Homo sapiens: one gene and its partners. The protein of the gene in region 4 interacts with the protein of the main gene of each other region in a biochemical or structural test. Each region holds a gene or a part of one and is shown on either strand. Other genes may lie near its edges. The genes, in order: NBDY, DCP1B, DCP1A and EDC4.

Region 1 (8,086 bases), on a different chromosome or scaffold from region 4:
TCCCATCCAAATAACACCAACATTCTTCACAGAAAGAAAAACCAATTCTAAAGTTCATATGTAACTAAAAAAGAGCCCACATAGCCAAAACAAGACTAAGCAAAAAATACAAATCCCGAGACATCACATTACCTGACTTCAAACTATACTATAATGCCACAGTCACCAAAACAGCATGGTACTAGTATAAGAATAGGCACAGAGACCAATGGAACAGAATAGAGAATCCAGAAATAAACCCGAATACTTACCCCCAACTGATCTTCGACAAAGCAAACAAAAACATGAAGTGGGAAAAGGGCACCCTAATCAACAAATGGTGCTGGGATAATTGGCAAGCCACATGTAGGAAAGTGGAACTGTATCCTCATCTCTCAGGTTATACAAAAATCCAATTAAGATGGATCAAGGACTTAAATCTAAGACCTGAAACTATAAAAATTCTAGAAGATGGCTGGGTGCGGTGGCTTACGCCTGTAATGACAGCACCATGGAGGCCAAGGTGGGTGGATTACCTGAGGTCGGGAGTTTGAGACCAGCCTGACCAACATGGAGAAATCCTTTCTCTACTAAAAATACAAAAAATTAGCCGAGGGTGGTGGCGCATGCCTGTAATCCCAGCTACTCGGGAGTCTCAGGCAGGAAAATCGCTTGAAACCGGGTGGCAGAGGTTGCAGTGAGCCGAGATCACGCTATTGCACGCCAGCCTGGGCAACAAGAGCAAAACTCCGTCTCAAAAAAAAAAATGTATATATATAGAAGGTAACATTGATAAAATCCGTCTATACTTTGGCTTAGGCAAAGAATTCATGACCAAGAATCCAAAAGCAAATGCGACAAAAGCAAAGATAAATAGGTTGGACTAAATACAAAGATAATAGGTGGGACTATTAAAACAAAAGCCAAGATAATAGGTGGGACTATTAAACTAAAGAGCCTCTGCACAGCAAAAGGAAGAGCGAACAGAGTAGACAGACAACCCAGAGAGTGGGAGGCAGTCTTCACAATCTATGCATCTGACAATGGACTAATACCCAGAATCTACAATGAAATCAAACAAATCAGTAAGAAGAAATAACAAAAAATCCCATCAAAAAGTGGGCTGAGGACACGAATAGACAATTCTCAAAAGAAGATATACAAATGGCCAACAAACATATAAAAAACTGCTCAACATCACTAATGATCAGGGAAATGCAAGTCAAAACCACAATGTGATACCACCTTACTCCTGCAGGAATGGCCATAATCAAAAAATCAAAAAAATAATAGACGTTGGTGTGGATGCCATTGAAAAGGAACACTTCTACAATGCTGGAGGGAATGTAAACTAGTATAAACACTATGAAAAACAGTGTGAAGATTCCTGAAAGAACTAATAGAAGAACTACAATTCGATCCAGCAATCCTCCCACTACTGCATATCTACCCAGAGGAAAAGTCATTATACGAAAAAGATACTTGCATATGCAAGTGTATAGCAGCACAATTCACAATTGCAAAACTATGGAACCAGCCCAAATGCCCATCACACGAGAGGATAACAAAATTGTTATACATATATATATATATGTGTGTGTGTGTGTGTAACAATATTGTTATATTGTTATATATACATATAACAATATTGTTATATTGTTATATATACATATAACAATATTGTTATATTGTTATATATACATATAACAATATTGTTATATTGTTATATATACATATAACAATATTGTTATATTGTTATATATACATATAACAATATTGTTATATTGTTATATATACATATAACAATATATGTATATATACATATATAACATATATACACATATATACACATATACACATATATACACATATATATAACATATATACATATATACACATATACACATATATGTATATACACATATACACATATATGTATATATACACATATATGTACATATATGTGTGTACATATATGTGTATATATACATATACACATATATGGGTATATAGACACATATGCATATATATATTTATACATATATACATATATATGTATAAATATATACATATATATGTATAAACATATACACATATATGTATAAATATATACACTATAACAATATTGTTATATATATGTATAACAAAATTGTTATATATATGTATAACAATATATGTATAACAATATATGTTATATATATAACAATATATGTATTGTTATATATATATAACAATATATGTATTGTTATATATATATAACAATATTGTTATATATATATGTATGTGTGTGTGTGTGTGTGTGTGTATATATATATATATGATTGAATACTACTCAGCCTTAAAAACAAACGAATTAATGGCATTTGCAGCAACCTGGACGGAACTGGACAGTATTATTCTAAGTGAAATAACTCAGGAATGGAAAACAAAGCATCGTATGTTTTCACTCATAAGTGGGATCTAAGATATGAGGACGCAAAGGCATCAGAATGATAAAATAGACTTTGAGGACTCAGGGAACGGGTGGGAGGGGCATGAGGGATAAAAGACTACAAACTGGGTTCAGTGTATACTGCTCGAGTGATGGGTGCACCAAAATCTCACGAATCACCACTAAAGCACTTACTCATGTAGCTAAATACCACCTGTTCCCCAAAAAACCTATAGAAATAAAAAAATTTAAAAATTAAGAAAATTTTAAAAAGAAAAGCTAATTTTCAAAAGAAATCAAATTAATCACCCAACTTCTCAATTTAAAAAACTAAATGAAAACCATTTACTATCACTCAGAGGTGGGTTTAGTTTTATTTTCTATTGTCATCTTTTGATCATTGTAAATTATGAGAGTTGGATCTGTAGCACTTCTCAAATTGGCCTCTATGTTCCTCCAACCTAACAGTGCCCTCTTCTGGCTTCATGATTCACATTCAGCTGGTTCACTGATGTTGAAAAAAAAAAGATGATGGAAAAAAAACCTGTTTTGAAACCTGGAATAATAAAGGCTTTAGATCTCCGTTTTAATATAATGAAAACAAACAAAATTCCAGTTGCAAGTATAATGGTGGTTTCCAGCAGCTGGAAGGAGGGTAAAATGGAGAGTTGTTTGATAGGTATGGAAAAGTTCTCGAGATTGGTTGTACAACAATGAGAATATACTTTACCTTATTGAACTGTACACTTAAAAAATGTTAAGATGGTAAAGTTTATGTTATGTATGCTTTACCACAAAGCATATAAACAAATAAATAAATAAATCTAATTGTGGTATAAATAGTCAATGTTGATAGAAGCAACTCTAAGTTGGGACTGTTTTCACCTCAAGTCAAATGTTTACCGTAAATTAAACCTAGCTGGAGTTGATAAAATTTTTAATTCCTGTTACTTTACTAACGAGGCACATATTTCTCTTAATTTGCTAAAACTATAGCTATAGAACGACTTAACTGCAACTCTTAATGTCTTTAGTCGTGAAGATTTAGAGACCTATGTAAAAAGACTGTGAAATTGTTACTTCATTTACTTGAATAAATAATAAAATATTCTTCAGTTTCTAAAAATAAAGACTCCAAAGTTTGACTTGTATATCTGAGTGGAAGGCATAACATTTCACTGAGATGAAAGAAAAAAAAAACTAGGAAAGGAGCAAATTTGGTGGATTAAGGATAGACCAATGGTTCTCAACTGGGGACAATTGTGTACCCGAGGGGACATCTGGCAATGTTTGGAAATCTTTTTGGTTATCACAACTTGAGGAGTAGGGAGTAGTACTGGCATATAGTTGGTAGAGGCTTAGCTTAGGACATTGCTAAACGGTAAACTCTGGCAACCACTACAAAGATTGATTTGGCCTCAAATGTCAATAGCACCAAGATTGAGAAACTCTGGGTTAGAATCTTCTTCGCTGACTTTGACCACTCTTTCTCAGCCTTTGCAGCAGACTTCTTTTCTTCTATCTGTCTCTAATTACTCAATATTCTGTTTTTAGCTCAATTATTTTTCCTTTAGATTTTCTCTTGGGGATATAATCCATTCCCTTGTCTTTAACTATCACCTCTATGTTGCTGTCTCCCACATCAGTATGTCTAGTTCCAACTACTCTTCTAGCTCTAAAATATTGCCTCTCTCAATGCCTCCCTCACATCTTTTCATTAAGCTACAGCTACATCTGACTTTTCTGTCTTTATTAGTAGCATTTGGCACAAAACCACGGGGTCATTTATTTCCCAAATATTTACTGAGTACCTAATTTGTGTAAAGGGCTGTGCTGGTTACTTGGAGGAAGGTAGAAGGGTGGAGATAAGAGATAGTTATAGTAGTAAATGCTTTACATGTATTATCCCTGGTTATGGAAACACCTTTGCAAGGAAAAAATTATGGCCTAGAAACCAAAGTTCCAAGAATTTAAATAATTACTCAAAGAGCTCAGAGCTTGTAAACAGCAGAGTTTAACAGGCACTTCTACTCTGGCATTAAGGACTAAGCTCTCTCCATTTAAAAAAACAAAAAACAAACAAAAAGCACTGAGAACAAAGCTGAAGAAGTGTGATCTAGTTTGTCCATAGCTAAAGGGAGATGGATGTGTAGGCTATTTTAATAATGAAGGTCTAAGAAGTTCCAGAAGCCTTTTCTTCTGAGACACGTGGTACTTTCTTCTGGTTACCATAAATCATAGAATATAACATATCATCACTAGTAAGATGGGTCATTATTTTCCATACCTACAAGAAAGAAAAAAAAAAGCTGCCAACTAAAGTATAGTGTACCATCAATTGTTAGGTCGCAGAGATTTCCTAGATATTCAAATTTGGGGAAAAACATAATAAGCCTTCAAAAATTACAAATTTGCTTAAAAAATAAAGAAAAAATGATCTTAGATTCTATGACATACGGTGAATTCATTTTCCACATTCAATTTCCATGGTTTGTGCTAGTGTGCTATTCTGCACTCTAGTCAACTTACATGTTTGCATATTGCTTTTTAAATGTTTGTAGCTAGTTTCACAGCTCTGTGATGTGCATCTGCAGCTGGCTTGTAAAGCTCTTCAATAATTTATTTGGTTACCGCCCACCCCCGCGTCCCTCCCACACATATAAGCCATTCAGAGTTTACCACTTAAAGGTAAACTTGAATTTCTTCTCATCTTAAAATTGCATAAATTATATTAAATTCTCAATAAATTTATTTACATTTAGTGGGGGTGGGGCGCGATGGAAAAACACTATATTAAATAACGACATCGGTTTTTAACACCCATCCTAATAGAAACATTAAAATAGAATGGGGTAGGGAGGAGGGGTGGAGGCGGAGAAGGGATGTACGTCTCAGGATACAGGAAATACGGTAAGAGCGAAACAGGAGGAAGCCAGCTCTGTGCCTGGAGGGGACTCGCCGCCATCTCAGGTCTCTTGGCTTTGCCAGGGCCCACCGGAGAAAACTGACGACCCGTTTCTGTAATCCTTATGGGAGACCAACCTTGTGCCTCCGGGAGATCCACTCTCCCACCTGGAAACGCACGGGAAGCCAAGCCTCCAAAAAAGCGCTGCCTCCTCGCTCCGCGTTGGGATTATCCGGAAGGAACTCCCAACGGAGGTAGTACCACTCTACCCTCCGCACCTCCTCCTGCATCAGCCGGCCTGAAGTCGCACCCTCCTCCTCCGGAGAAGTAGAGAAATAAATTTCTCCCACCCTAAACCAGGTCAGATTCTTTCTCATCTAGGACATCTAGGCTCTTTGAAACTTATTTATGCATTCTCACAAATTTCCTTCCCCTTTTCCCTGTTCTTTCCATGATTTCAAAATAGAAAAAATAACATGCAGGGATTAAGCAGCTCTTTCACAAAATATGCTTGAATGAAATGATGGATATTTAACGACATTAAATAATTATTTGTAATATTTTAGATGAAATAATTGTAGTTATATTTTCTAAGAAATAGACTTGAATCTTTTGATTTGCTTGAAAGTAAGTCATTGGTGCCAAGGTGGAGGGAAAGTGTAATAAAAATGCTCATGAGTTGATAATTTAAAGCTGGGTGATGTATATGTAGGGATTTATTATATTATTCTCTCTACTTTTGCGTGCATTGGAAAATTTTTTTGTTAAAAAAAAAAAGGCTGGTTCAAGGCCAATAAAAAGCATCTGTTGAAGGCCAGCCTTCAGAAGTGTATGTCTTTCTCTGTGTAAGGCAGGAGAGTTGAATTTTTTTTTTTAAAGCTACAATGTGATAGTCAAATCCAAGTGCCATAATGTTTGCTTGTTCAAGGTATTCAGGAAGGGTGGAGGATGGACCAAGTCACTGCCTGGTAGTAATCATGAGCCATCAAAAAGGAGGAGTAGGGGGGCGGACGCGGTGGCTCACGCCTATTATCCTAGCACTTTGGGATGCCGAGGTGAGCAGATCAGGTCAGGAGTTCGAGACCAGCGTGGCCAACACGGTGAAACCCCGTCTCTACTAAAGTTACAAAAATTAGCCAGGCGTGATGGTGGACGCCTGTAATCTCAGCAACTCGGGAGGCTAAGGCAGGACAATCATTTGAACCTGGAAGGCAGAGGTTGCAGTGAGCCGAGATCGCGCCATTGCTCTCCAGCCTGGGCGACAATAGCAAAAAACTACGTCTCAAAAAAAAAAAAAAAAAAAAAAAAAAAAAAAAAGGAAGGAGGAACTTTGGGTGGGCCTTAAAGGTTGAGTGACATCTGCCATGTGGAGGGGCAGGGAATGCTTTTCAGGCCGAGGGTTTCCAGAGAAAAGGCAGAATTCTTCTGGAAACAGCTTGGCTATAATTTTGAATCTACAAGAAGGACTAGGAGGTGAAGATAAAGTGCTTCAGGGCCTTAAATGTTATGCTGAGCATATACTTCATTCCAATATCCATCAAGTGCTACTATTTGTATTTTAAGATTCCTATTCTTACTATCAGAAAAGGAATCTCTGATATTTAGATGAACTTTATAGAATGCAAATTATAAAACTGAATCTGACCCAAGTTTTATAGATCCTTTTAATTCAAAGGAGAGAAGCATCTTTTCTTCATTCGTGCAGTAAACCTTTATGAAGCCCTTGCAATGGGTAGGAATTATTCTGAGAGCTGTAGGGGATGGATGGCCAAGGCATAGTGCCTAGTACATAATAGGAGTGAAACAGATATTTCAATAAATAAATCAATGAATGATGGGACAACTTTGGCGACCAAAAAAGTTTTAGACATTGGGTTTGGTGGTAATGCATAGAAAAAAAAAAATAGAAATCTATTTTACTTGAAAGCATCTCCCTGTCATTCCATACAGTTTTACTTCTCACATGTTTACCTCTATTCAAAGGGGTAGTGGAGTGGAAGGTTGCAGGGAGTAGGGAGAAAATTGCTCAGATAGAAAACAAAAGAGCAGCCGGGCGCAGTGGCTCACGCCTGTAATCCCAGCACTTTGTGCCGCTGAGGTGGGCAGATCACCTAAGGTCAGGAGTTCGAGACCAGCCTGGCCAATATGGCGAAACCCCATCTCTACTAAAAGTAAAAAAAAAAAAAAAAAAAATAGCCGGTCATGGTGTTGTGTGCCTATAATCCCAGCTACTCGGGACGCTGAATTAGGAGAATCGCTTGAATCCAGGAGGCAGAGATTGCAGTGAGCCGAGATCATGCCACTGCACTCCAGCCTGGGCGACAGACCGGGACTCGGTGTAAAAAATAAATAAATAAATAATTTTAAAAAATAAAAAGGAAAAAGAAAAGAAAACAAAAGAACAAAACAATAAGTGCAGTAGCTACATAATTTCCCCTCCAAGTGATTCAAATCACTGATAATTGTAATAATAGCCAATATTTACTGAAGATTTATGTGCCAATTTTCTAAAGGGCTTTGCATGTTATAATTTATTTAATCACAACTCTACTAGAGAAGTTTGTATAGACCAAGGGAAGTTGTATGACTTGCCACAAGTTACACAGCAAGAAGTAGCTGAGCTGAGCTTTGAACCCAGAACACCTGATTCCAGAGTTTATGCTCTAAACTTCTATATAATACATCCCTTCTAATACTATGTATACAACTGTTTTATAGGAATAAATCATTGAAATAGAGGTATGGGAAGGATAATGATTTGAGGAGACCAA
Region 2 (8,590 bases), on a different chromosome or scaffold from region 4:
CATGCCTACAAAACCAGTTTTCAGTTATATTCTGATTTTCAAAGAATCTAAACATACTGTCTTCTTACAATTACCTTAATTGATTAGATGCTGAATTTTGTCTTACTCAGTCATTGCCATGGTATAAAAATTCCAGACCCAAACATTATTTTTTTATCATTCTACAAACTTGTTTTAAATTGCAGTATCCAACTTTGTAAAACCAAGTGTGAGCATATGTTTAATCTCATAATGACAATTATAATATAATCATGAAACTCGAAGTCACCAATATTTGTCCAAGGTATCATCATGAGGCTTATGGAAACACAGTGGAAGTACGCCAGCACTCTGGGCGCCAACAGAAATGGAAGTTACACGGATTAAAAAAGAATTTGCCTATTCGAAATGGTCTTTTACTAATATCGAGCCTGCAACTTAGTATATTTGGTTAAGTGATGATGACCTGGTTTTACAAACACAGATTATTCAAATAGAAAGAAGGCAGAAGGCTGGCGTCATCCTAGAAGGTCAGAGCTTTAGGCCTTTGTGGGGAGGAAAAAAGAATAAAAAATAAATAAATCTCTGTGGGCCAGGGAGATGAACAATATGGCAATGCTGAAGTCATTGCAACATTATTTATCTTTTTTCTCTGAGTATGATTTCTAATCTTCAAGAGTTTTTTGTTTGAAAGTTAAAAAACCAAAAACCTTTCCATGTTTTTCTATCTCCCTTAGAATATAAAATCTGAGAGAACAGGACTTGCTATTGCACGTTTTTTTATCCCAACTTGGATTTCATTATTTTATAAATCATGAGCTCTTTAAAAAATGCTGACATTTAATGAGTAAATTCAACTAACTCAGGGTTTAGTTCAAAAGAATAAGCATTTATTGAATCTCTATTATGTACAAGGCATTGGACCAAGTGCTAGGGAGACTACGTGGTGATAAGCACATAAAAAATAACATCTCCATCCTGAGCAACGTAGTGAGACCCCATCACTACAAAACATAAAAAGTAACATCTCCATCCTGAGCAACATAGTGAGACCCCATCACTACAAAACATGAAAAATAACATCTCCATCCTGAGCAACGTAGTGAGACCCCATCACTACAAAATATAAAAAACATTGGCCGGGCATGGTGGCACCAGCCTGTGGTCCCAGCTACCTGGGAGGCTGGGGTGGGAGGAGTGCTTGAACCCAGGAGGTCAAGTCTGCAGTGAGCTGTGATTGTGCCACTGCACTCCAGCCTGAGCGACAGAGAAAGACCCTGTCTCAAAAAATAAATAAATAAATAAATAAATAAGTAAAACTTTATGAAACATACTATTTCCTCCTTTTTGCTTATCTGTCAAGAAACTCAAAGCCCAATTTCTTGTTCAATTGCAATAATGTTTTCAGGCTAGATTTTCTATAACAATTCTCTTTTATTACAATGACTGTTTTTTTTTAGAATTGGAAAAAAATGTATATGTAACGTAGTAAATAAATAAGTCTAAGTCAGGATAAAGTGAGCTAAGTGCCACAAGAAAAATCGCAACAGAATGCAATGAGGATTCATAGGCTGAAAGGATTGTATGGGAGAAGACAGGAGGTGAGTTTTCCAGGAAAAGGTCATTCCAAGCTAAGAAGACAGATGGGCAAAGGTACAGAGATAGGAATGTGTAAGATACTTGGGAGAAAAGAGTTCAGATACAAGGAGGTTAGAACAGAAGATGGGTTGTTTCATTAACTCTAAACACACAAAAAATTAACTCTTCTCTACTAAGGGTCATATTAGCATGTTGTTCACATATGTGAAATTTTCCCCGTAAGCAAAGTAAGGGTATCTTCATCTTACTCATCAGTGAGATCAAAGACTGGAGAAGACATGACCATGTAATTTCAGCACAGACACAAGAAGCAATAATAAATCATGAAGAATTAATGAATTTCATCAAGTGAGCACTCCATAAATGCTTTGCAATTGTAGTCATACAGATCACTAAGACTTGTATACACTTTTGTTTTATGAACATTTAAGCTTTTACAATGGCCCCTATATTGCCTGTCTTCTCTAATGAGCTCAAAGCAATTCGTTCTTTGGAGGCCATGATCTATTCTTTACACTTTAAAGATGGAAAGACTGAAAAATTATGAGGACAATGATCTGTGTAAGGATCATGGAACTTAACAGACAAAAGAAAAACAATGCCTCATTATATGTACGAGGGAAATGCAAAGTAGAATCTGTGGGTTCATGCTGAAAAATCAAAATTAGAACAGCTAATCAAGTGAGAGAGTGTGACTAGTTCAAGAATTAATCACAAAATTCTCCATTGCCCATATTACAGATTAAACTTGTTTTTAGAAGCACATATGTGATTAAGAGCAAAGAGGTCAGTAACACTGGAAAAAGGTAGTGAACTAACATGGAAAGTTGTCTAGTCAGCTTTGTGTGGTTGCTCAGTTGCTGCAGCCCTATGTTTTTCAAACTACAGGTCACAATCCATTAGTTGGTCATGAAACCAATTTACAAAGTCACAAATAGCATTTTAAAAAATGTCTGTATACTTAGTATTGAAACATTTATTCTAGTTAATATCAGGTATAAATATATAAACATATGTTCTCAGTCAGACTGCAAATGACCCCAGCCTCAGTCAAAAAAAAGTTGTTTGAAAGCCATTGCTGTATTCTTCCCCACTGGGAAGTTAGGCTTGGGAGTCAATAGGACTGAGACTCCAAAATGCAGCTTAACCAAGAATTTCAGTACAATTGAAATTGTGACTGCAAAGATTATATTGCAACATATTATTATGAGAGGGTATGTGTGCCGTATCTATGATATTTCTATATCAAATAGGTAAGAATTTATGAATGTGAGTAGTAATGTCTGCACAGTTGTTCTAATATTTAATGCTAGATAAATGGTTTAGATCAACCATTCTCAACTTTTTAGTCTCAAGACTCCTTTACACTCTTAAAAATTATTTTTTTAATTACTTTTTATTTATTTTATTTTTGAGATGGAGTCTCGCTCTATCACCCAGGCTGGAGTGCAGTGGCAGGATCTCGGCTCACTGCAACCTCTGCCTCCCGGGTTCAAGCGATTCTCCTGCCTCAGCCTCCCGAGTATCCGGGATTACAGGTACCTGCCACCACTCCTGGCTAATTTTTGTATTTTTAGTAGAGACGGGGTTTCACCATGTTGGCCAGGCTGGTCTTGAACTACTGACCTTGTGATCCGCCCGCCTCAGCCTCCCAAAGTGCTGGGATTACAGGCAGGAGCCACCGCACCTGGCCCACTCTTAAAAATTATTAAGGACTCCCTCAGAGAACTTTTGTTTATGTGAGTTATACCCACCTATATTTACCATATTGGAAATTAAAAATAACTTTAAAGACCCCGGGCTATGTGTGTTTTGTTTGGAGTATATGAAGAAACTCTGGCCTCATATGTAGATAATGTAGTTGGAAAAGAGATGGATATTTTAATAGAGTTTTTCAGACAATTGTGGATATTCTTCTTGGATAATATACCAAAACTTGACAAGCTGGAGTTTCTCAAAGCTTAGCTGCAATGTACTATCTGAAATCCTATTAACTTTTCATACTGTTACATTAAAAATCCATTAGTCCACCTTGTCCTTGAATGGATCTTTTGCCTGTGCATGATTATGTAGCATGAGACATTGGTCTTTTGGAAAATACTGGACCACTGAGTTAAGCAGATCTTTGAGATATTGACACTTTCCATTATACAAGATTTGTTAAAATTGCGCTCATTAATATCATCACTGATCTCATCAGAAAAAAAAACATTAAGTACTGAGATGTCAAGCTCATGGCAGTAGATACACATTTTCTAAACTTTTAATTCTGGCTTGAAGGCTTAAAAATTATCATTGGCAGCAGTAATTGTCCCTTGTTTTCCTGAAAGTGACAGGCACACTTTATTTATTTTCAGAAAAATGTCTGTCAAGTACCTGTTTGAATAATCATAGTTTGCCCATCTTTCTTTCAAGTAAAAATGTTTTATGAAAATAAAAATAAAAACATGAATTCGGCCTACAACTCAAGCACAGAAGTATTTTCCTAGAGACAAATATGACACACTTCATTTTGCAGCAGACGTGCTTTATGCCTATTTCCTATTTTTTCATGCAGAATGTTAAAAAGAATTGTACCCAAGGATTAAGCTTCAATGAAATTAATAATTCTTACTGCTTATCAAGAACACCATCAGGTGACACTGGCTCTCTACCTTCTTCTTTTTTTTTTTTTCTTTTGTAACTGAGAGTGCAGATTAGTGACGCGTACTTTGACTAGCAATACAGTTTGGTGCCCCTGCCTTGATTGGGTTAAACCACCGGCGCTTTTAACCACCATTGTCTGCAAAACGTCACCACAGTGAACAAGTCAAATAAGTAAGTCTCAGCATTGTCATAAAAGGTTTTGTTTTTTTTTTGACCTTGCAGATCCCCTGAAAGGGTCTCAGAAACTCCCAAAGGGTTCCAGGACCACACCACACTTTGAGAACCACTGGGTGTTAGCGCATTCAGAAATCAATTCAGTTCTCTTTCTCTTCAGAGTTCTTGATGCTCGAGGCTTATTTATTGTGATAGATTTGATCACTGAAGCGCCAAAGAAAAGATATGCCAAGGGGTCGAACACATCCAAGAAGGAAATCCTACCGCACACACAGCTCAAAGGCTCGAGCGCGTAGAAAAACAGCTCTTGGAGAAAGAAACGGGATGCAGAGGGCAGGCCTGGGCTTGTCGTTGCCAGTGGCAACGATCCTCAGTGGGCGGGGCGCGGCCATCGATTAGTGAGGCCTTGCGTCTGTCGGCGGGCAGGAGGGTGGGGGTGACTGGAGCCGGAAGGCCTCCCGGGCCGTGTGGTCGCCGTGGGTTCTCGGTTGCGAGGCAGCTCGCTCGTTCTGCGATCTATTGAGAGTGGCTTCCAAGAGCCCCGTGCCTATGTCTGGGAGGGAGGGAAGATGGCAGCCGTGGCGGCAGGCGGCCTGGTGGGAAAGGGGCGCGACATCAGCCTAGCGGCCCTGCAGCGCCACGACCCCTATATCAACCGCATCGTGGACGTGGCCAGCCAGGTGGCTCTGTACACCTTCGGCCATCGGGCCAACGAGTGGGTGCGTGCGGACGCGGCGGAGCAGTGCAGCCCAGGGTTGGGGTGGAGGCGGGGGGCGTCAGACTCAGGACTTGAGGACCCGGTGAGGGGGAGGAGACGTTGACGCCCTGGAAGTGGGTGGATCTGGGGACTGAGGCCGAAGTTGTGGAGATGGGGTCTCGGGGGTTTGGGGGAAGGAAGGCGGATCTGTGGAGCTACCTGGAGTTGGGGAAAAGACTTAAATCTCTAACGTACCCAACGCTGGGAGACCAGACCGATCGGGTACGGCACCATAAGAGCCGAAGGAAAGGAAGGACCTGATACCTTATGGCCGGAAGACCGATGTGCTCGAGAAAGTAGAGCAGAGTTCTGTTACAGTGAATCTGTGGCTATGGGGGAGGCAGGGACAGCAGACGAATAAAAGTGCAGAGTTCTGATTTTGGAATGTCAGTCTTAGATGGGGCAAAGAGAAATCAAAACTTGATAGAAGGGGAGAAATCTGCAAGTTGTAAACTTAAGGGGAAACACCAAGAAAAGAGCCAACCTCGTCAAATAAAAGACAAAATGGGGCAGGGTCTAACACTTAGAAGGAAGCTGATGCTCTTGGGAAGATTATTACACGGCAGCACACCAAGTTCGATATTGGAGGTCATTTGGGAGCCAAATTATTTTAGTGCTCTTCTCAAAGCAGAGTCCCAGTAAATGGTAATGGAATGAAATTTCATTTTCCTCATAGTTAGAATGGGGTAGAAGCCTAGAACACTGGAATCCTGTTGCAGGGATTGCTGCTTGTAATTTTGTAACCCACCCACTCGAATGTAGAGACATGTAATTTTGTTTCTTTACTCATAATGAGTTTTGTCCAAATAATATTCATCATCCATTATGTATCACATACATGATATCCATCATTTTAAAATAAGTTACAAAACAGTATGGAGAACTTAGCCTTGATGAATGGATTTCAGATAAACTTTTTGTGTTCTTCAAGTCGGTTGTATAAACATCAAAACTTAATCTAGGAAAACATCCATGTTGAACAACTCTGTATTTTTTTTAACACCCACATTCATAAGCCTACTTATCTGCAGTATAGTTCAGCAGCCTGTAGTAAAAAACTCACCTGAAAATCATTAACATAAAAATAAAAAGACAAGCAAGAATGGGGTAGACAAACAGTTTTGCCCAAAGTTCTTAACGGAGGAAATTTGCCGGAATGGGGCAAAGAATTTAGGTCTGCTCTCCTAGTAGCCAAACACAAAAGGAGAACAGGAAGAGCTCTTTAATATTCGTTCTTCTGTAATAGAAAGTGTACCTCTTGATCAGGAGAAAGAGGTTATTTCCCCCTAGTTTCCAGGGGAATTTGTCACCTACTTTTTTTGTTTGTTTTTGTTTGTTTGTTTTTTCGAGGTGTCACCTTCGTTTTTACATAAAGAACATTGAGCAACATAGACAGTTTCCTCCATGGTAATTAAAAATATATAAAAAGATATTCTACATATGGCTATTTTGCTGCTCTGTAGAAAAATGCTAAAGGTATAATGTTATAATCCTGTAAAAGTAATTCCGTAGTAGAGAGATGAGGACCAGGGATGTATAGTTCTGTAAGTTGACTTGACACTGGGATTCGAGTCTGGAGAATCCCAAGAAACTGTCAGTATAAAGAGAGTAGAGCATTTCTCTTGAATAATAGTTGTTTCCTATAGGCTTTTGACCCTTATCAATGTGATAGATACCTTTTTAAGATAGTTACAGATGTTTATTAGATACCTAAAGCCTCATCAAAAAGCAGATGTGTCACAATGCATTAATTACAGGAGTTATGTTTTCCTGCTTGCTGGATATGTTGCCTTCAGACAGGGCATAATTCATTCAGGAAAAGGTCATTCTTTCAAAGTTCTAATCTTCAAGGCTGTGGTAGCCAGAAAAACAGAGAGACCTAGTTCAACTGCAGAGCAGTTGCTGGAGGCAAACTAATTATGACCACTGTCTCCATGTGCTGTCACTGTGGATGGGAGCCGTTTGAATGTAAACCTAATAAGAATATGAGAACATTGTTGAGAATAGAGGAGAAAGTATTTACAAGAAGGCAGGGGGGATCTTAAGGAGGGGAATTCTTATTGCCCTGAAAATGGATGAAGAATGACTTCAGCCTTTCAAAGGAGGAGAAATTAGGAAGGAAAGGTGTCTAGAAAATGAACTGCTTTAAAGAAGGATTAAGAAAGATTATGTGATGACTGGAATAGGAATTTTAGAGTTAGACCTACTCCCTGTTGCCAGGAAAGACTGCCCCCCGCCTCCAAAATATTAATACCTATGTGTCAATTGAAGACCATAACCCTGGTATTTTCCAGCTGTCAGTCCTTAGACCAGTGGCTCTCAGCTGGAGTTGATTTTGCCCCCAGGTGACATTTGGCAGTGTCTGGAGACGTTTTTGGTTGTCACACTGAAGGGAAGAGTGTTGTGACATCTATAGAGTAGAGGCCAGGGAATGCTGAGCCTGAAAACTGCCCTAAAGTGACTAACGTTGTGTTCCTAGCTAGTGGTTTTCTAAGTTTTTGGTGTATCCAAATAAGTCAGAGTTTTTTAAAAGTGAAAAATGCCAAACTAAAACCTCTGGATAATGAGACCCAGGCATTTCATATTGTTGAAAGCCTCATAGGTGACTCACGTGCTACATGCATGATGAAGAGAGATTTGGGAGGATAAGTTGAGACCTACTTTTTGATTATTTTAACTGAGAATAATCAAGTTAAAATAGAGATTGCGTTGAGCTAGTTTGTGTCAGACAGTGTGCAGAGTCCCCAAAATTTGCAAAACAGCACTATTTTATATTCCATTTTGGGTTTTTTAGTATTTTGAATTCTGAATTGCTTATTTCTTTAGCACTTGTTAGATTTTATAATACAGTATAATATTAAATCCTCAAATTGTACTTTTAAAATTTAAGCTAAAATACCCCAGGACTGGTAACTAATACTTTCACATAAAAGTCCTCCTTAAAGGATCTAAGGAACATCTAATCTTGTTTTAGCTATTCTCCACATCCCTAACCCTGGACTTTGCTCAGAAAGAAAAAAAAAATCTGGTTGCCCTTGGATAACTATGGAGGGGCCAGGAAAATGCGTGAATTTGGGCAGCTGTAATAGAACAGAAATGTATATTTTCAAAGTCTCTTTTATCCAGGTGTCATAGAGCGCCTGACGTTTTTTCATCAAAAGATCTGAGTAGTGTAAGCTGATTATCTCTCTTTTTTTTTTTTTTTTGAGACGAAGTCTCGCTCTTGTTCCCCAGGCTGGAGTGCAATGGCGTGACCATGGCTCACTGCAACCTCTGCCTCCTGGGTTCAAGCTATTCTCCTGCCTCAGCCTCCAGAGTATCCAGGATTACAGGCGCCTGCCACCACTCCTGGCTAATTTTTGCATTTTTAGTAGAGACGGGGTTTCACCATGTTGGCCAGGCTGGTCTTGAACTCCTGACCTCAGGTGATCCACC
Region 3 (5,615 bases), on a different chromosome or scaffold from region 4:
CTGTGGTGGTTGGACTTGGCTTCCCGTAATGATTCTAGGACATTCTTACATAAATGGGCTGGTCATCCTTTAGCTAATGGAAGTTTATAACCAGATGTCAGATGTTCACATGTTCCTACTGAATGTTTACCTGAACTCAAAATAGTCTGTCTCTGTGCTCCACTCTTCTGCTGCTTATGCCTGTTTCCACATGGTCCCTATTCTGGGCCTGGCTACTGGCTTCTGCACTTCGGTACAAAATGACCATTGTCACTCTCCAGGTTGCAGGCGCCCCACTGGTTACTGCAACGACCACTGCAGTGTCTTCAGTCCTGCTGGCCCCAAGTGTTTTCCAGCAGACAGTTACAAGATCTTCGGACCTTGAGAGGAAAGCCAGCTCCCCTTCTCCTCTAACTATTGGAACGCCAGAAAGTCAGAGAAAGCCTTCCATTATTCTCAGCAAGTCTCAGCTCCAGGATACATTAATACATCTAATAAAGGTATGTAGGATACCAATTTTATCTTTGATTTTTCATTATTTAATGAAAGAAATTTTATAAATTCCTCTTACAGAATCAGTTCATAAAGTAAATTCAAAAGACTAGCTGGAGGCCAGGCAAAGTGGCTCACACCTGTAATCCCAGCACTATGGGAGGCCAAGGCAGGCAAAAAAAAAACAAAAACAGACTAGCTGGGAGTACTGTTTCTCTTTTTTTAAGCATACAGTCCTGGTGGAGAAATATCTGCATGAACTCAAAATATTAATCATGATTGTCTCTGGGTGGTGGGATTATCAGTTATACAAATCATTTATACAATTTTTTTCCTAAGCTGTTACCAAGGAAGTAAAATCTGATGAGGTAAATGTGGCATTCGTATCCTTAACCTTTACCATCTCTTCTAGAATGATTCCAGCTTCCTCAGTACACTTCATGAAGTCTACTTGCAGGTTCTGACCAAGAACAAAGACAACCACAACCTATGACTGGAGCAGAATAAGTCTAAAGGCAGAGCCCCAGCCTCAGAGACAAATAGGCTTCATCATGGAAACTTCTGAGCAGAACATTGAGTTTGAGAATCCTGAAATTGAGCCTATGAGAAAGAGACTCATTTCTTAAGAATGTTTTCCAAGTGACATTCTCAGTGATAATGGAGGTTTCACTGTGAAGCATCACCAGCAGATCCTTGTTTTGACAAAAAAAAAAAAAAAAAAAAAAAAAAAGAGAGCGATCATTGTGTTAAGTTATGTGGGTGTTTTCATCAGCTAGGAGCAAGGCTGTGGAATAAGGAGTCAGATTCTCAGCTTGCTTTCACTTTCAAGGACTTACAGAGGAGTAGTCACCAGCCTCACAGCAGAAGTTCAGCCCGGCCCCCACCGCTTCCCCCAGCCTACCCCATAGAAACGGGCTTTGGGCTGACAAGTCAAGTTTTGAACAGAGTAGAAGGCAGCTCTGCAAAGTAGCTTCTAGTTTTTAGGACCAGAATTTAAGCCGGCAAATTAGGAATTATTTCCTCAAGTGAAGTATATTTTATATGAATGCCCCATTTGGGCCTTAAAAGTTGTGAAATTTCTTAATAGCATTTTGTTTTTAAGTGCCCCAGTCCTGCCCTGCAGCAGGCCCCCAGTGCAGCATTACCATTTGAATAGGGCACTGTCAGGCTCTGGTGGTGTGGACACAGGCATGTCATACCTTTGAAGGAAAGGCTGGGGCTGGGAATGCCCACATCCTATCAAATCTTCATTTTAGGTTAAACTCTCCATTGGTTCTGAAAATGCTAAGTTTGTGTGTGAAGCACAGCCTTATTTTCCTTTTCTGTCATTGTTGATTGTTTTCCTTAACACTTTGACAAAAGGACCAGTGGACCAATCTGACAAAGCCATTCTGGTTCCTTTCCTTGAGTGTACTGAGAATAGTTTTAAAGCTATGCAGAAAAGGGAGCTGTTATTCACACTGCCCTTATTTTGTTGTAGAATTATGGAGTTAAAAGAAAATGTGATTCCGAACTCTACCAATGTATTCCTAGGCTGTGAGTACTTTCCCGGCCCAAAGTGTGAAAATATGTAAAGAAGCTTTGTTATGCTGCTATTGATCTGCCATGATTTCTATTTATTCTTTTATGGCATGTAATGGTGTTTAGTAATATTTTAATGTAGATTTTGATTTATTTCAGCAATAGTAATTTTAAGATATTCTTTGAATGAAAGTGTCTTCGTTTCTATGATACAGGTCATTTTGTAGTATTTAACCAATTAAGATGCACTGCTTACTTTTCTGAGCACTATTTAATGATGGGGTAAAAACCCAATTGGCTCAACCAGCTAGCATAAGGATTAGCTGTGAATAATGCTGACAGATATGATGGTTCCTTAGGAACAATCATTTAAGCTTTAATGGTAACTCAATCATAAGTCCATAGATTATTTTTTTCTAGCTAAAATTTTAGAAAATTACTTGTGAATTACATACTTGTTTTAGTTTGGTCTTAGTTTTTAGCATAAAGAATGATTGGCTTTTGTTGATCTAAACATGCTTCCTGGACAGGGTTTCTGCTTCTCATTTTAGTGTCTTCTATTGCTGTCTACCTAATTATGTGTGAATTGTGCAGAATTCAGGGAAGCTTATAAGTTTTCATGCTCAATTGTGAATAGTTTGTTTTCACAGATAGTATGTAAATTAAGCAACCAAAAATGAATTCCTTATGCATCATCTGGGAACGAGAAAGCTATAGTGGGATACAGAGTGTTGCTGACACCGGGAGATGGTGTCCAGGGAGCCACGTGACTTCCATAAAGTGGACGCACCAGTAGGTGTGATTGCACCTCAAGTGTAGTCTCAGTGGGCTTCGGTGAACAGACGAATCAAGGGATTCTTGAATCGAAATTATGCTTTTGAGTATGTAATATTATGAGAGAGTTAAGAGAGAATATCCTAAAGAGAGTCTGTGATCATACTAATTTTCACCTTTAATGCTAGGAATGGATATGATAGACAGTAAAGAGCATCTATGATAAGGCTTCCTTAGTGTGAAAGTAAACTTAAGTGCCCAAGTCATGGAGACTTGAAAAGGGTAAACCTGTTTCACCTCCCAAATTTATATATTCAAAGTATTTACTTAAAATTCAGAAGCCAGAAGTTCATGTCATGATTACCAGGAAGTTCAGGCCAGAATGAATCCCTAGAGAAGCCAGGCCAAGCCTGGATAATTGCAGCTGGATGACCCTGGCCCGAAAGTCACAGTTCAGTTGCCTTATTCCTAGTTCAGGCTTACTATCTAGAACCTCATGCTAGCTTAGGTTGCATGTTTACATTGCTGCAGTGTCTTTACTGGAAGCTTAGTTGGATCGAAATGGACACCGAGATGGAGATGCTTCTGGCTAGATTTCGCAGAACCCCAGGAGACCTGCATTTAGACCACTCTGTCCATTTGTGTGCCCACCCCCACCCCCAGGGTCTAAGTGTAGACTCCAAGAGGAGCAGCCCAGAGCTTGGAGGAGAGGTGTGTCTGGGGCACCACTGGTGGGTGGTGCTGCTCTTCTTTTTGTTGTAGTTAATGCGGTGTCTTTTAATGGACTCTCAGGCCTCCCAGACAGCCTTGTTCCTTTAAGGCAGAAGCTCTTCTTCATTGTGTACCTCCTGGGATTCATGAGGTGTGAGATTTGGCCTGCTTGACTTTGAATTCAAGTTTTTCAAGTGACTCTCAGTGTCAGAAGAAGCATTTCATGCTGTCCACATGTGGTATGTCCACAGCTCACCTTCAAAGGCTTAGATGTAGCCATCACAGAGAGTGGTATTTTATTAAGAACCCAAGTCCCAGCCTGACCAACATGGTGAAACCCCATCTCTACTAAAAATACAAAAATTAGCCGGGCGTGGTGGCACGCGCCTATACTCCCAGCTACTTAGGAGGCTGAGGCAGGAGAATCACTTGAACCCGGGAGGCAGAGGTTGCAGTGAGCCAAGATCACACCACTGCACTCTAGCCTGGGCGACAGTGAGACTCCACCTCAAAAAAAAAAAAAAAAAAAAAAAAAAAAAAGTCACGCTGGGCCCCTCTCTACAGGGGGACACACAGGCTTAGTTTAGTATATGTCTAACCAGATTTTGCATGTCAAGCATTTGTCCTTTTCCTGGCTTATGTTTTCTTGTAGAAATTATATAAACCCTATCAAATCCACTACTAGGTAAATTTTTAAACCATGCAGCTTTATTACTCTCCTCCCCCAAAGAATGTAGTTTGAAATTTTCTCATTTCCATAGTAGAGGCCCTAACTGCCATTGTATTACTAATAATGCAACATGAAATTGAAGGTGCCTAACTGCTCAAAAAACAAAATCAGCCATCATACTGTAACTCTGAGAGGAATGAGAGGTGGCACAGGCACGAGTGGGCTCAGCCCGTGTGAGTGAGGAGAACTGAGGAATCCTAGGGTGCGCATCCTGCATCCTGGCTGCACGTTTGCTGCAGAGTATGTTTTTCTTTCTTGCCTCCCTTCAGTTTTCTTCAGTTGCGTTCAGTGTATCTTCTGGAACCAATAGTGCCCTGTGTTCTCAAGTCTCTAAAATGCTAAGATCTGAGCAAAGTCAAGCAGCTTACACTAGGCTTTTTTACAGCTGTGCTTGAGAACATTTCCGAGTGGACCAGGGCCTTGAGGAGCCTGTTTTTCAGCAAATTCAACAGATGTGTGCAGTGATTCCCTCCGTTTTGTATTTGACACCTTCATTTAAAATGCTAAGATGCAATATCATTCACTTCAAAGTGGGGAAAATGCAGAATTGTGTTTCCTTTTTATCTGTGTGATTCCTTAAGAAACATGTTTTTAAAATATGTGTTCTAAATGGTTTTTTATTCTGTATTACTGCTTTGGCCATGTGGCTCTCATGACTTTCATTGTACCAGATTCTCAGCTCCCTGAAACATGGGGACGAGAAGCTCTGGAATTACAGCAAGATTTTTGTTCCATGAGCGCAATACTGTATCATTAACATTTTTAATGGTATGGATTTTATAGCATCTGTGTATGTTTGCAAATATTAAGTTATTACATGTTTTAAAATGAGCGTTTTTCATCTTAAATTTTATATGTTTGCAAATATATTTTTTTAATAAAATTTCAAAACCAAGTTTTAGCACCTACTAAAATTTAATTGTGTTTTTATTTAATTTGTAGAAATAGGGACTTTTGAATGAGTTGCACTTTTGCAGAGTGCCATACTGGTGAAATGGGATGAGGCAAAAAAACAGAACCGACAAAACTGTTATCAGATCCTTTTGTACTTCTTAAGCATAAGGATTAGGTGTTCACACACAGGTGTGAGATGGGCCATCCTGAAACATTGCTACAATGTCGGCATATTACCTGTCTGACACAGAGAAAAAAGAAAACTGTTATCTACCTGTTTCCAGCCTGTATAGTCAGGGTTCTCCAGAGAAACAGACCTGAGAGAAGATAGAGTTATGTACCATGTGATATTTCAGTCAACAACAGACCACATTTATGACAGTGGCCCCATAGAATTACAACCCTATTTTTACCCGACCTTTTCTGTGTTTAGATACACATATACTTATCCTTGTGTTACAGTTGCCTACAGTATTCGTACAGTCACATGCTGTACAAGTTTGCAGCGTAGGAG
Region 4 (8,035 bases):
TTCGAGTGCCAAGGTCAGATGCCAGCTGCTGGATGAGGGAAAGGAGCACAGGCTGGGAGAGCGGGCAGGGTGGCTGCCCAAAAACCTGGGCTGGGTCCACAGTTTCACACACATACAGCACCAGGTTCAGGTCAGCAGCTGTCAGCGCCTGGAGGAGAAAAAAGCAGCAGTGTTTATAGCAAATATCAGGATGGAATGTCTGCTTGTCTGAACTGTGTGGCCTGGGGGAGGATGACCACAGGGTGGGCTAGTGAGAGCTCCAGAGGGACTCAGAGAGAGCCTGTAGGGCTGTGTAGTTACCCTAGGGGATTGGGAAATGGGTTCCTGAGAAGGGTAGTTGTAAAGCAAGGTGGGCTAGGTGGGAAGAAAGGGGTCCAGGAAGAGGAAGCAGCAGGGACAATGGCCTGGAGGCCAAAGGGAACCAAGAACAGTCTGCTGGGGCCAGAAGGTGCAAAGGTGGTGGGTGGAGTAGAATGTATGGTATGTGGGCCTTGTCAAGAGACACGTGACCCTTAGCAGGGCCTAATGCCTATCGTACCTGCTGGAAGGCCTGATTGAGGTGGCCCTGCTGCAGCAGCTGCAGGATATGGGCTTGCTGGGCCTGGCAGTCAAGGTGGGCAGAGGGGACAGGTGTGCCAGCAGCTGAGCGCATGGCCTGCATGATGCTGGAGGTGACGGCGGCCTGCTGCTCCTTGAGCGCCACACTCACCTCACCCTTAACGATGCGCTGTACCTGTGCTAAAATGGACTCCTGCAGGCTGCAAAGGGAAGTGAGTGAGGTGAAGTGGACAGGGAGCCTAGTCTGGCCTTTCTCAAGCCCACCACCTTGCCCAGTACTCTGCCCACACACCTGCCCACAGCCACATGCAGCTGGTGCTGCACCTCAGCACGAACACTGCCGGCCACGGTGGCTGCCATCTGCTCAGTGGCACTCTGCAGTGTGCTGACCAGGCCCCGCAGCTGGGCTAGCACAGGCTCCCTGGCCTCCTGTTCCCGTGCCTTCCGGCTCTTCATGTGGCTTTCTAGCTGCTGCAAGTCTGAGGGGTGACCACAGGGACTATAAGAGGAACAGTAGGAAAGAGGATAACCCCTCCCACCTTGGGCCATATGACCCCACTCACATTCCTGTGTCCCCAGCCGGAAGCTATCATTGATTTGCTGGAACATGGCCTGGCAGCTCTTCTCAAAGGCCGGCAGCACCACACTCTGGAAGGCTTCCCGGTAGGCAGCCTGCATCGGCCCTTGTAATGTGTCTGCAGCTGCTCGGGCGATGGCATCAGTCAAGTTCTGGGGTTAGAGGGAGGGGCCAAGTTGAAAGCCTGAGCCCAGCCTGGCCTGACTAGGCCCAGGAACCACCACCTCCACCCACATCTTGGGCCCTATAGCACCTTGGACTTGAGCAGCTTGGAGATGTTCTCTTTCATGCTGCCCTCCACAGCTGTGAGCTTGGTAGCCACTGAGTTGCTCAGTTGGCCTGCCATAGGCTCCAGACTCCTTGAGACACCTGGGAGAGGGGAAGAGGGTGAGGTGGAGCCATGAGAAGAAGCTTGACAGGTACCCCACTCCCACCTGAACCACCCAAAGGGAGTCTGCATGCAAAACTCACATGGAGGGACTGTCTTCTTGATCTCATCCCGTATGCTGCGCTCTAGCCGCCCAGCTACAGCTGACGACAGTGCTTGGGACAACTGTTGTGTCAGCTGCTCCTGCAGCTGCCCTCCCCGCTGCTGCCCCTCAGCCAGTGCTCGCTCCAGCCGCCGCTCTGCGCCATAGCTAAGGAACGGGCCTGGAGCAGGTCGTGTACTCCTTCCCAGGCCAAGAATGCTGCCCCCGTCCCTATGCCATGTTGTGCTACCAGTCTCAAGGATACGTTCCTGCTCGTGCCGAGTCTCAAGGGCACGTTCTACGTGGCCTGTGACTGTGCTCTGCAGGCCTTCGAGTTGGGTACACAGACGCTGCAGCAGCTCTTCCTGGCTGTGCCGCAGCTCTGCCAGCTCTCTCTGCTGTTGCCAAATTAGTGCTGGCCAGTCCTCAGGGGGCTCTGCCACCTGTCAGTAGCACTGACAGTCACACGATGCCTGCCCCACCTATTCCCACACACCAGACCAGGGAATGGCCCAGAGCCCTTCTCCACCCGCCCAGGGTGAAGTTCCACAAGTACAAAGTGGGCTCATTCACTTACCTGGTGCTCTGTGAGCCGGGATCCCATGGCTGCATCCCTGCCATAGGCGAGAAGCACCTCAGGCTATGTGAGGCAGCCTAGAGACCACCCTCTCCCTCCCTAGGATTTCTCCCTACCCATCATCCTTCTTGCTTTTCCTCTTGAGCTTGGGTGAGGTTCGAGGGGATCCCTTGGTCTTCCAGTCCTTGGCAGGCAGCCGTGGAGCAGGAACTTTGGTGCCAAAGCCTCCTGAAGCAGAGGCAAGGCTGGCCACCTCATCATCATGGTCACTGTGGGAAGGGGAAGGAGGAGTAAGCCCCTGCCCACTTGCTGCCCATCCCCCCATGAGGGCAATGGTGTAGAGTGGCTCCCACCTTTGCTCAGCACTGGCATCCTGGCTGTCACGTTGCTGCAGCAGGTGATATGGTGGTCGGTGGAAGGCCAGGCTCTTGTGCTTTTCCTGAAGGCCATTCCTGGGGCTGGGAGGACAGGCCAACTTAGCCATGGATGAATCTATCTGAAGCCCCTCCTGCTAGCACACTTTTCCCCTCCCAAGCTCCTCACCTTTCTGCCAGGGTGCTGCAGGTCTCACGAGTAATGTCAGGTGCTGTGGGCCAAACCTGACTGTCAGGAGTCGAGGCCTCCTGGGTCAAGGCTGCCTCCAGGAGGGAGGGGGTATTATGCCGATCTCCATCCCCAGGGCCTCCATCAAGCCCGAGCTGGGGGCCGAGCTCGGGCCCTGGCCGGGGCCGTGGGGACAGCAGGTGCAGTGCCGAGGCGGCTGAAGCCATACTGTCTGGCTCAAGGCCCTCTGGTGCAGAGGAGCCAAAACCACGGGACAGGGCCTCAGATGCAATCTCAGGGATGTCCTGGGACAGGGCAGTGGAAGCTGAGGAGATGACATCAGGGGAACGAGTGCGGCTAGGGGAGGCTTGGGGTAGCCCCAGGGGCTCCACTTCCTGCAGCTCCAGGGACAGTGCAGAGGTGGCAGTAGGCACCTGAGGTGGGCCAAAGATGGGGGCTTAAGTGACAGGAAGTGAGGCAGAGATGGGGGGCACAGAGACGAGGCATTAGTATTAGCAGTAATGAGAGACAGGGCAGCAGGGAAGTGGGGATACAGGTCAAAAACGAGGCCACAGCCAAGAAGAGGAGGTGGGGACAGGGAGGCTGAGGAGACACCCACCAGGAAACACAGGAGGGTGAAATGACCTCAGGGAAACACGGACCATGTCGGGTAGAGCAGGATCAGCAGCAGGGGGCTGGGAGGAGCCCACCACCCACCTTCCCTGCTGCTGCCCACCTGCTCCCCACACTTCACACACACACCCAGTCACACACCTGGCCCGGCCCCTTGGGAGTCAGTTTGTCAGCTGGGGCTGGGAGCAGGCCAGGCAGGAGGCCACGCGGGCTTGCCTGAAGGCTGCCACTGCTGCTCATTGTCAGGCTGCCATCCAGCTGCAGCTTGGGGCTCAAGGTCAGCTCCTCAGGTGGCCTGGTGGGGGAAGGCTGAGGTGTCAGCAGCCAGAGCTTGGCATCATCTGGTACCAGCCCCTGCCATCCTCCATCTCTGACCCTTGCCTCACCTGGTCAAGGAGGGGTCCACAGCTGAGGTGCTGCTCATGGCAGACACAGCTGTAAGGGAGCTGCTGCTACTGCTGCTGCTGCTGCTGCTACCGCTGCTGCTGCTGCTGGGAGAGGCAGTGATCTGGGGAGATGCAGGAAATAAGACCTGTGGCCTGTGGCTGAGGCATTCCCAGGTCCCCCTACCCTGGGAGAGTACCTGCTGCAAGGAGGCGCTAGGTGTCATGAAGGCGTCAGGTGTCATCAACTTGGGCTTGGTCTCACTGCTCAGACTGAGGAAGTCGGCAGGTGCAGGCAGCTCCACGATTCGTCGGAGGTCAGGCTGGGAGCCGTGAGCGGCTGACCCCAGGCCCTCAGAGCCCAGTTCGGGCCGAGACTCTCCAAATGCTGCAGGGCAAGTTGCCACTTGAGTTAGATCTCAGACCCTGGTCAGTCCAACTTACCCTACCTCCCTCTCACGCCCTACTCACTGAAGTCCTCGTGGGCAGTGTGGGTGGGCAGTGGGGCCACCACATCAGGGTTCAGCTGTGGCTGGAAGCGGATCTGCACATCTTGCAGTGCCCTGCAGGAAAAGAAGGGGGAGAATAAAGTGCTCCAAGGGCAAGGGTCAGTAGAGTGGAGACAGACACAGACAGGACACTGGCGGGCCTCCCCACTCACTCACTTAGTATGCACACAAAAGAGCTTGATGAGCACACCGGCCGCAGACTCCATGGCACCGGCTCCATGGGTACCATCTGAAAGGACAGTGTGGATGATGAAGCCCCTGGCCCTCTCTGTGCCTCCACAACCCCCTAGATATATGGACACATAGCTCTGACCCTGAGGCAGCTCACCAGCACCCAGGCTGTCATTTTCCTCTTCGGCAGGCAGCACCTCAGTGTGCCGTAGCCGGCAGCGACTCACAACCTGGATACCAAAGCTCAGCACAGGGTGGGTGAGCAGGAACTCCGAGATGGAGCTGAAGCAGGCGTGGCCCTCCTCCTGGTTTTGCAGCAGCTCCATCACATAGAGGACCTGCACAGGCAGAACGTTCCTAGCTGAGCTCAGAGGCTAAGGGCTGTGATGCGCCACCTGCCCCCCGGCCTTCCTCTATAATCCCAACTCTGCCCAGGGTACCCCATGGCAGCCTACCTTCCGTTGCACATCGCTGAGAATCAGGTATTCTGCTGAGAGGTCCAAGCAAACCTTGAGGCTAGGGGGCACACTCACTGAGCTGAAGATATCTGGGGAGAAGCTAGAGAGCCACAAAGCAGAGTGAATGAGCCTGAGAACTGAAGGAAGCTACATTCCCAACCCTGCCGCCCCTGCCCAGTCCCCCAGCCTTCCAGCCACTGCTTACCGAATAGTCTGCAGGCAGGTCCAGGATACTGTACACCACATCTTTAACTCTCGGTTCTGGTCAGCACCAGTAATAAGGAACCTCCAGAAAGGGACACTGCAAGGCAACAAGGCAGTGAGTGACTGGCTGGGGCCCCTGCTGGGAGCCATGGTCCAGCCCACCACCCACTAGGCTGCCCACTCACTCACTCAGGGTCTTGTTTCTTATGGTTGTCACAGAACAGGAGGCAGGAGAGGGGCCGCCCATCATGAGGTTTCCACTCGTGCAGACACCTGCAGGTAGGCAGATGAGGGGCCTGAGTGAGTGGTCGGGTGGGCTACCTCGGGAGGATCCTGGTCCCTGAGGCCCTGCCTTACCTTGGCTCATCTTGCCCCTCAATGTAGATCTGCCAGAACTTGACATAGCCATCGTGGCTCGCAGTAGCCAGCACAGTCCCATCAGGAGAGAGGGCTCCTTCACTGAGGCACTAGAAAGAACCCAAAAAGCTTTGCTGACTAGAGGTGAGAACAAGCCCCTCCCAAGTGAGGATGGCAATGAGCTGGGCTGACTCACGGTGGGACTGGCATGCTTGTGTGACTGACTAAATGAACAGGGTTCCTAGAGAAGGCCAGACCTGCAGGGTGCTGCTAGATAAGGAGAAAGCTGCACAGGTGAGGGCCAATTTGAGCTCAGAGTCCCCACGGGCAGAATGCTAGTAAAGCTGCCCGGGCAGCTGTGGATATAGGGAACAGAAGATGGATATGAGGAAGTGGGGAGGGCAGGGGAGGCAGGCAGTCACAGGCTTACCGTGCTATGACCTTTTACCACAATGAAGCCCTGCTTGATCTGGCTAACATCCACAGGCCAGGTACTGTGGCTGGAGCGGAGCATGTCCAGGTCCCACACCTCAGCCTGGAAGGCACAGGGAGGTGAGTGTGCAGCCCAACCCCACACTATGGCTTCTCTGGCGCCTCTTCGCCATGTCAGCCCCCTCACCCGGTCTTCATGCAGCAGGGCCACTGTTGGGCTGCTCTCCTCACAGCAGTCTTCGCTCTCCTCAGGGATGAAGGGGCACCAGATGATCCTGCGAAAGTGGTTCAGTGGCGTGCCCTCTGGCTGCCGAATATGGACCAAGATCTCTTCTCTGAGCAGGGTGTTAAGGGCTAGATAGATGAATGAAGAGGCGTGACACCCCAGCTCCGCCCACCCTTCTTCAGTCCCACCACCCACAGGAAGGAATGGATACTGAATTTTGCCATTAACCAGAGCCAAGCGCCACACGAACAGGTTGCCTGCCTCATCCAGGCAGGCCAGCTGTGGAGAGTTGAGGTGCGCGAAAGCCAGATCAGCCACACTGCCTGTGAAGCCCTTGAGCAAGGTCCGCTCCGAAGTGCTGACGCTGATCACCCGCACCATGGCAGAGCCATTGTTGGCAGCTGGAATCAGGAGAGCAGTGGACCATGAATACGTATCCAGGCTCAGGCAGTAGCAGAGAAGCGCTGCCCCACCTGTCTCCCTGCCACCACCAGAGTCTCAAGCTTGGTTTTCCCACCCAGCTCCCCAAGAGGCAGCATGGACAAACCTTCCATTGTACCCCTAAGGCCTGAGTGGCCTGATGTTGGAACTGGCTCTGTGGGACATCCAGCAGAACATTCCTTCCTCCTCACTGTCTTTACTCACCCCGAATGGCATAGGCCAAGAAGGAGTTAGACACAGCAATCAGGTTGCCATAGTAGTACTTCTGTTCCCAGTCATACTTGGCGACAGGCTGAATTTTCACCTGAGAACCCAGGGTGAGAAAAGTCATGGAACTTCCCCAGAGCCTAGGTGGCCCCCAACATCCCTGGGGATGGGAGAGGACACAGATGCAAGTCCAGCTACCCACTGTTACCTCCTGGAGCCAGACTCCCACAGAGGCTTGGCACCCAGCCCTGGCTTCCTGAAACTGGGAAAGTGTCAAGGTGGTCCCCATAGGAACTGGCAGCATGAGGGAGACTGGAAAGGCTGGGTGTGCCCCCGTACATTATATATGCCACAGCATCCCAGTACCTACCTTGTTGCTTCCCCGGGCCTTGCTTGAAATGCTAGAGTCACTGCTAGCCACAATCTCCACCTCCTTGGCCAAAATCCCAATGCAGGTGGAGCTATCATCTCCTGAGAGACAGCTGTGGGGAAGAGTGCAAAAACTTTGCCTCTTGTTCACCCAAAGGCTCAGCGGGCAGGGTTGGGAGGAAGCGAGGACATAGCCAGACTGGGGAAGGTATCTAGTCCAATGTCAGCTTCGCCTGGTCCACTGGCCCCAGACCCACAGCTCTGCTTGCTCATCTCCTTCCTTGGGAATGAGCCTACTTTCATTCTAAACCAGGTATCCAGGCCAAACCCCTGAGCTTGTCCTTGCCTCTCATCCTAGTGCAAGCTCAAGCTCCACCCCAGGTCATCTAGAGAGGAAGCAGCAGAGGCTGCTGGCCCCGCTCACTCCCCATCTCATGCCTTCAGCTAGCAGACACCCCAAATACACCATCACCACTATTGTCGTCTCCTAGGTACTCACATGACCTGCTTCTCTTGCAGGTTAATGGGTGGCATGGTCCGAAGACCAGTCTTGTTTGCTGAGGTACTATCACCTGAGCAGAGCGGGTCTGGGACCAGAAGTCCATTGAGGTCCCCATTGTAGGCACTGGATGGCCGTGGGCTCTCTGCACTGGGGCCTGGGGACAAAGAGGGTCATTCTGATAAGGTTGCTCGACCTGCCCACAAGCCTCTCCCCTTTCAGAGTTTCCTTCAAGAACTATGAGGTGCTCTAGGAACACTCAACTGAGCAAAGCATGTCCATGAGGAGGAGGGCCCTGTGTTCATCTCTCGTTCCATAAACACTGATGTAGGCAGGACCAAGGATGAGCATGAGGCTCTTCTACCTGGGGGAGGGGTACAAGCCATCAAGGACCCTTTGAGGGCAGTGAATACTCAGGTCT

Evidence for each region.
Region 1: the proteins of EDC4 (region 4) and NBDY form a complex in vitro, tested with the Homo sapiens proteins (one study listed by IntAct).
Region 2: the proteins of EDC4 (region 4) and DCP1B form a complex in vitro, tested with the Homo sapiens proteins (one study listed by BioGRID).
Region 3: the proteins of EDC4 (region 4) and DCP1A form a complex in vitro, tested with the Homo sapiens proteins (one study listed by BioGRID).

What each region holds. Positions count from the first base shown.
Region 1 is NC_000023.11:56,723,915-56,732,000, forward strand, and holds the start of NBDY (negative regulator of P-body association), read left to right. Parts: upstream 1-5,328; 5' UTR 5,329-5,439; coding exon 5,440-5,646; 3' UTR 5,647-5,675; intron 5,676-8,086. UniProt on the Homo sapiens protein: Promotes dispersal of P-body components and is likely to play a role in the mRNA decapping process.
Region 2 is NC_000012.12:2,000,809-2,009,398, reverse strand, and holds the start of DCP1B (mRNA-decapping enzyme 1B), read left to right. Parts: upstream 1-4,941; 5' UTR 4,942-4,967; coding exon 4,968-5,117; intron 5,118-8,590. UniProt on the Homo sapiens protein: May play a role in the degradation of mRNAs, both in normal mRNA turnover and in nonsense-mediated mRNA decay. May remove the 7-methyl guanine cap structure from mRNA molecules, yielding a 5'-phosphorylated mRNA fragment and 7m-GDP.
Region 3 is NC_000003.12:53,282,929-53,288,543, reverse strand, and holds the end of DCP1A (mRNA-decapping enzyme 1A), read left to right. Parts: intron 1-260; coding exon 261-479; intron 480-883; coding exon 884-964; 3' UTR 965-5,115; downstream 5,116-5,615. UniProt on the Homo sapiens protein: Necessary for the degradation of mRNAs, both in normal mRNA turnover and in nonsense-mediated mRNA decay. Removes the 7-methyl guanine cap structure from mRNA molecules, yielding a 5'-phosphorylated mRNA fragment and 7m-GDP.
Region 4 is NC_000016.10:67,875,681-67,883,715, reverse strand, and holds part of EDC4 (enhancer of mRNA-decapping protein 4), read right to left. Parts: intron 7,772-8,035; coding exon 7,615-7,771; intron 7,229-7,614; coding exon 7,117-7,228; intron 6,844-7,116; coding exon 6,744-6,843; intron 6,500-6,743; coding exon 6,310-6,499; intron 6,208-6,309; coding exon 6,060-6,207; intron 5,976-6,059; coding exon 5,871-5,975; intron 5,551-5,870; coding exon 5,441-5,550; intron 5,357-5,440; coding exon 5,273-5,356; intron 5,181-5,272; coding exon 5,085-5,180; intron 4,980-5,084; coding exon 4,877-4,979; intron 4,760-4,876; coding exon 4,579-4,759; intron 4,480-4,578; coding exon 4,407-4,479; intron 4,305-4,406; coding exon 4,213-4,304; intron 4,130-4,212; coding exon 3,942-4,129; intron 3,867-3,941; coding exon 3,745-3,866; intron 3,654-3,744; coding exon 3,500-3,653; intron 3,160-3,499; coding exon 2,726-3,159; intron 2,641-2,725; coding exon 2,536-2,640; intron 2,452-2,535; coding exon 2,299-2,451; intron 2,220-2,298; coding exon 2,183-2,219; and 14 more. UniProt on the Homo sapiens protein: In the process of mRNA degradation, seems to play a role in mRNA decapping. Component of a complex containing DCP2 and DCP1A which functions in decapping of ARE-containing mRNAs. Promotes complex formation between DCP1A and DCP2.